2 linked regions of the Homo sapiens genome follow. The protein of the gene in region 2 purifies or fractionates together with the protein of the main gene of each other region. This does not show direct contact. Each region holds a gene or a part of one and is shown on either strand. Other genes may lie near its edges.

Evidence for each region. Proteins that work in one complex are often made in the same cells at the same time.
Region 1: the proteins of FBXW2 (region 2) and MAP3K7 purify together in Homo sapiens (affinity purification with western blotting; one study listed by BioGRID). This does not show direct contact.

What each region holds. Positions count from the first base shown.
Region 1 is NC_000006.12:90,545,573-90,549,072, forward strand, and holds part of MAP3K7 (mitogen-activated protein kinase kinase kinase 7), read right to left. Parts: intron 2,606-3,500; coding exon 2,475-2,605; intron 1,816-2,474; coding exon 1,686-1,815; intron 1-1,685. UniProt on the Homo sapiens protein: Serine/threonine kinase which acts as an essential component of the MAP kinase signal transduction pathway. Plays an important role in the cascades of cellular responses evoked by changes in the environment.
Region 2 is NC_000009.12:120,765,917-120,769,416, forward strand, and holds part of FBXW2 (F-box/WD repeat-containing protein 2), read right to left. Parts: intron 1-3,500. UniProt on the Homo sapiens protein: Substrate-recognition component of the SCF (SKP1-CUL1-F-box protein)-type E3 ubiquitin ligase complex.

The DNA of each region.
Region 1 (3,500 bases), on a different chromosome or scaffold from region 2:
TCTGACACTACAGTGAGACAACCCTGCTCCAAAGAAATACTTGTGACTCATGGAGACTCATGGGCTTGTCAGTGGCTGGTGACTTCTACTCAACTTGATAGTTTCTGAAGACCCATCTGTGGCAGACACAGCTATCTTCTGCCAGTTTCCACTCTTCCCTTCTGTTTTAGCAATAGTACTCTGATTTTATTTAGGACAGAAAAGTCATCAGATAAAAGAGGGCAGATCTCCTCTTCCCTTGGAGCTACGTGTAGCCATTCGACCATGTTACTTTGACCAATGATGTGTGGATGTTGTTAAGAGAGGCATCTGGGAATGTTCCTTCAAAGAACTTGGATGTCTATTTGCCCTGCCCCCATGTCTTCCTTCCTATTGCCTGGAATGTAGAAGTGATGAAATGGAACTTCAACAGCCATTTTGGAGCACAGGATAACTTTGAGAATGGAAGCTATACAGTAGGGATTACAGCACAGAAATAGGAGACCAGTTACTTCAAGATCACAGAGCCCACTACCTCCAGACTTGTTTATATGTGAAAAATAATGCTTATGTGTTATAGACACTGTTATTTCGGATATTCTGTTATATCTAATGGATTCTAATAGTAGCTGATAAAATCAATGATCATGATTAGTTGAAGACAAGTATAGTATGATGGTCCATCTTGACAACTTCTTTCTGAAAAGAGCTCCACACACAATGAGAATATTCTATTTAGAAAAAAACCAAATAAGTGAAAAAAAGACCTAAAAAATTGGTTAGCTAAGTTAAAAAAGATGCAAATACACATGAATATATACATTTATACACATACATAGTTAAAAGATGGGGTAAATACACAAAAATGTTAAGTGTTTATCTCTGAGTGGGGTAATTATGTAAGTTTTTTTGGCTTGTTTACATTTCCACATTTTCCACAACAGAAACGTGTTTACTTTTAAAATCAGCTCCCCCTGATCCCTGGAAAGAATCAGCAAAAAACCAAAAACGTCCAAATTAAACCAGCATTACTAAAATGAAACCTGGTCACAGAATTAGGTTGTCAGTTTACTTAAGTAACAAAACATGTAATTGTTTTTGTGCTGACCAGTTCTTCCATGATTAATAATTTTAAGAACTGAACAATGGAATTTAAATGCTAGCTTTTTCAAGATCTAATAAAATTATGATATTTTATTTTACAATTAAAAAAATTAACCACAACCAGCTTAGCTATTATTTTGTCACTGGAATGAAGAAGCAGATAGAAGGTCAAATCATACATGGATCTGGAATACATTTTTCTGTTAAATTTGAAACAAAATATTTGCTATTATTTGAGTTCAGCACAAAAATCTAGTAGTATCACTGAAAATCCCCAAAATATTCTGGTTTTGGCAGAATTTCAATTTCTCACTTAGACTTTCAACTCATGTTTGAGCAGAAAGAATTACATTTGATAAAATCTGTAAATGAGGAAGGCATACTTTCTCATCCAAATAATTTTACAAGTCATACCTTCCTTATTTGGAATTTGAGATAAATGCATAAACTATTGCTAGTAACTTAGAAAAATATATTGTAAACCTACTTCCTATTTAAAAAAAAATATAAGACACACACAAAAAACCTTTGACAACTGAAACTACCATGGCCAAAAAGGCTTATATACATTTTCACTCTTCAGACTTGTAGTTCCTTTTTACCTGTGGTTGCGGCGATCCTAGCTTCTATTTCAGACATGTCAGCACTCATCCTCTTGCCCTCAGAGGTTGGGGGCAAGCTCTCCACACTGCTCCCACGGGAGGCTCCCAAGCTTAAACGTCCAGATTCACTCTGTTAAAATTACAGGTCAATCTGAATTACTGAAGTTCTTTAGATTTAGCAATCTTAGGCAACCTAAAAGGAGGAAGATGGCAAATGGGATTCTGATAGATCCTGTTCTGCTCTGAAAGGAGAGGGAAGTTTGTACGAGAGGGAGCTACAGGGGTAAGGGAAAGCAAGCTGCAGATACTGTCTTTATGAAAAGGCAGTCACTAGAACTGGGAGCTAAAAGCCCCAATTATTCGTTAACCTAAATGCCTCAGGCAAAATGAATAAACTCACTCCTTGAAATATTTTTAAAAATCAACAATGGCAAAAATATAATAAATCTGAACAGCATGAAATGATAGACTTAGAACAACTCCTCTAACTGGGCAGCGCAGCCAAAATATACCCATTTTACATTTTTAACCATCAACCATTACATTTAGGGATTATTATAGATAGGGATTTAGAATTGGCAAAGGTAGCAATCATTAGAAGGAAAAACCATTTGGTAATAAATGGTAGGAGAATCTCATTACGTGTCTCTATTTGTAAGCTCTTTTGCATGTTTCAGGAAGAAAATTCAGGATTTATAAAATAGAAGATGGTAAATAATTAATTTCAGTTAGTATAATATTGTGACTACTGGTAAGGTTACCAGTTTTACTTGTAATAACATAACAAACCTGTTGCTTTGCCTGATTTTTCAACAATTTTGATTCTAAGCGCTTAATAGTATCATTTGTGGCAGGAACTTGCTCCATATTAGTGTCACTTTTGTTACTCGTATTTGTAGAAGCAATGTCCATGAATGAGCCTAGGAAAAGCAGAAACATTTATGACTAATGGCTGGAAATAATACAAATGCTTCACTTGGTATTATGTAACTTACATTCTTTTATAAACTAGCCAGGCAGGAACAGAAATAAAATAAGACTTTTCAAGCTAATGAAGATATCCAAACAAACCCATTTTAAGAGAAACTTAAGGATAGCACAAAAAAGGAACCAAGATGCCTAAATAGTCTTCTAATAGTCAAGAATAACTTAAGGTTTTTAACCTGAGCTAGTAGAAGAACTGAGGGCTATTAATTGAGATGCGGAAAGACTAAAGGAAGAGTGAGTTTGAAGGAAGTATCAGGAACTCAGTTTGGAAAATATTAAGTTTGAGTTTCTAGTAGATGTAAAGGAAATAGTTGGATATATGAGTATAGAGTTCAGGTATAAGATGGAAAACATTATGAGCCAACAGATGGTATATAAGGCCATAATAATGAATGAGGTTACCAAGGAAATGAGTGCAGACAGATAAGTGAAGAAGCCAAATGAGCAGGCCCTGGGCACTCCAACATTTCTAGGTTGGGGAGATGAGGAATAACCAGCAAAGAAAACTGAGAACAGACGGCCAGAGATGTAAGATGGAATCTAGGCTAGTATGGTATCTCGGAGGCCAACTGAAGAAAGTGCTGTCTGTAAGAAGGAGAAAGTAATGAATTAGGTCAAGTGCTACTGAGAGTCAAGATGAGAAATGAAAATGATTCCTTAAATGTAGTGATGTAGAGATAACTAGTGACCTTGACAAGAACAATTCTGAAGTACTGGCATAATACGTCTGAATGGAGTCAGCTCAAGAAAGAAGGGGAAAAGAGAAGCTAGTGAATGCAAATACAGACTACGTATGTTTTAGGAATGATCCAGTAGAAAGCTAAAACT
Region 2 (3,500 bases):
CTAAACAGCAGCACAAAGGAAAACAAAAAACAACTTAGCTTCTGTTGTCTGCGCCCTTAGTGAAGCAAAAGATTAACAAGAAAAGCTGATGTCCTCTTTGGAGGAACTAAGAGCTGAGCTACCAGACAAGCAGTAGACAAATACTGCTCTGTGACATATGGTGGGGCTCCTGTGGGAGGAGAGTTTAGCCTAGGTTTTAAGGACACCACCAAACTAGTATAGGTTCAAGAGAGCAACCAGAATGGGAGGACCTGGAGACCAGGACAAGGAAGAACAGCTGAAGGCTATCAGCTGAGATGGGGAAGGAAAGAGTTGGCAGGCATAGGGTAACTGTATATGAGGATCACTTCTGAATAGTGAAAGATGTGTAAGAGACAGCCCAGACATTATAAGCTTTAGAAGACAGAACTAGGATCAGAGGCAAAGAGTTACAAAGGAGCCAATTTCAGTCTCATATCAGGAAGGATGGGGGACATTCAATATTTATCAAGCATTTACATGTGCAAGGCACCGAACTTCATAATTAACATGTTATCTTTTTTAATTATTTTTATTTATTTATTTATTGAGATGGAGTCTCGCTCTGTCACCAGGCTGGAGTGCAGTGGCGTGATCTCGGCTCACTGCAACTTCCACCTCCCGGATTCAAGCGATTCTCGTGCCTCAGCCTCCCGAGTAGCTGGGATTACAGATGCCCGCCACCACGCCCAGCTAATTTTTGTATTTTTAGTAGAGATGAGGTTTTACCATGTTGGCGAGATGGTCTCGATCTCAACCTTGTGTTCCACCCGCCTCAGCCTCCCAAAGTGCTGGGATTACAGGCGTGAGCCACTGCACCCAGCGTGTTATCTCAATCCTCATAATGCAGTTAGGTAGAGGTATTCTCTCCACTATATCAGTAAACAAGACTAAAACATCTTGCCATGAGTCATACAGCTAACATAATGCAGGCCTAGCAAATGTTTTCTGAGTATCATAGGTGCTGAGTGCTGGCTGGGCCCCTGAAGAGAGATAAGCAAGATAGTCTTTGCCCCTTAGAAGGGGAGGGCATAGCATATAACTGCCAGAGTATGTGAGAACATGCTCAGCACAAACACTCCAATGGATATAACAGGAGTATCAAGGAGTGAGCAAATCTTTCTGTCTTTTATAGCTGGACCTGGAAGAATATTTTTTCTCTTTCTTGAAGAAGAAATGCAACTGGGCAATATAGATAGAATACGGAAAGCCTGTCTAAATTTTACAAATTCTCTCTCATGGGCATGTGTTTCTCTTATAATTAATATCTGAAAAAAAAATCTATGATACTAAGAATATCAACAAGACATCACTTCTATGAAACTAAGAAAATAGTTAACAGGTGCTGGCCCCTGCTTGAAAAGCAGAGAGTAAGCTCACCTTCCCAGACTGAAAATGGAAGAAACTTCTGCTAAAAGAGGTAGACATTTAGATTAGATGACATGTTTGAGAACATCCAAAATCAATCACTGAACACTCCCTATGGTGTCAGCCTTTATAAACAGGTTTACAAGATGGAGTCTGATCCCAGGGAAAGCAGTAAGTTCAGATTAACTTCAAGTAAAGGGGAATCAGAGGTCCCAATATGTGTGTTCCAAATGAGTTATAACTGATAACTCATCCATCATTTTCTACTTAGATGACTCATATTCATTCACTCAACAAATATTTACTAAGAGCCTAAAGTGAGCTAGCCAATGTTGGTACCAGGATTTCGGCAGTGAATAAGACAAAGTTCCTCACACTCAAACTATCCAATACTGAATTTCCTAGTCAAACCTGTTTTTTCTATTTCTTTACTTGCTCATTCACCCAGGTGCTCAAGCTAGGAAACGTGGCAACCATCCAATTCTCCTCCTCCTCCTCATTCAAATCACAAATTCGATCACCAAGCTCTATTGATTTTATGCCCTAAATTTTTCTCTAATTTGTTCACTAATATATGCACTACCACAGCTCTAGTCCAAGACACCATCTTTTGCCTGCACTATTGCCAACAGCTTTCTACTGACCTCCCCACATCTACTTAGTCCCTTTGAATCAGTTAACCTCACATACAACCTGATGTTATCACCTTGTTTCAACTTCTAAACTCTTTGATGGCTCCTTATTGTGCCCCCATCTTTAGCCATGCTGATGCATTTAAGGAATTTCCTTCAATTTCTCAAATGTACCTGAGGCTCCTTTAACCTCAGGGCCTTCGAACGGACTAGTGTCTCAGTCTAAAATTCCTCACTGTACACCCACTCCTGGTACTTAGTTAAGGCATTTATACTCACCCTTTAGAGCTCAGCCCAAATGTCTCCTCTTAGAAGCCTTCCCTTACTCCACAAACTAGGCAGGGCCTCAAAGTACTCTGTACTAGGCTAGGCTCCTCTTAACCCAACCATTAAACAACCTGTTTGCAATTAGCTGTTTAACATCAGTCTTCCCCATCCTGCTGATCGGTAATTTCCCTGAGTTTGGTAAGTACTTCTGCTGTTTCCCAATGCATACCACAATGCCTGACACAAAGGTGGGTGCTCAATGAATATCTAAAGAATAAAGTAGTGGTGAAATAAACAAAGGCAAGTGCAAATTCCTACAAAAGAGATCTAAAGGAGGCTAGGAAGCCGGGTGCGGTGGCTCATGCCTATAATCCCAGCACTTTGGGAGGCGGGTGGATCACTTGAGGTCAGGAGTTTGAGACCAGCCTGGCCAACAGGATGAAACCCCATCGCTACTAAAAATACACAAAATTAGCTGGGCATCATGGCAGGTGCCTTTAATTCCAGCTACTCGGGAGGCTGAGGCAGGAGAATCGCTTGAACCTGGGAGGCAGAGGTTGCAGTGAGCCGAGATCACACCACTGCACTAGAGCCTGGGTGACAGAGTGAGACTCTGTCTCAAAAAAACATAAAATAAAAACGAAAAAAAAAGAGGCTAGGAAAAACAGCTAGAAAGTCTGGTAGGTCCCACATCATAACAGAACACAAAAAATAGGTGGCTACCGGGTTAGGGCTCAAGATCTGTGAAGATGAGCTGATTCCAAAGACTGAAACACAAATATGTTGCAGAATAGAGCACAGGTCTTGACAGGTTTGTGGCTTTCACTTTGATCACTTTAGAAATGGAACCAGACATCCCTGCTGTGCAGAGTCTGGGTCCTTGAACCTAAGTAACCTTACATGCTGTAGAGATAACCTAACTCAAGCAATCACATCATATCTCAGACTTATTGAGTAACATGCTGTTATTTGTGCTTTGCTTCTTTTCAATTAGCTTCAAAGCTAAGTAGCCCTACCTGGTCCTAGCAACTGAAGCCAGAGGATTTGTAGTAGGTTTCAACAGAGGTTGGTTTATCTGTGTTTGGGAGGAAAAAAGCAGACACAAGACAGACTCTTTTCGGAGAAAAAATCTGAACCTGGCAACTCCTACCCGCAAACAATCTTACAGGTTTATTATTTAAAACTATTATTCAAACACTAAAAACTAGCAACTTT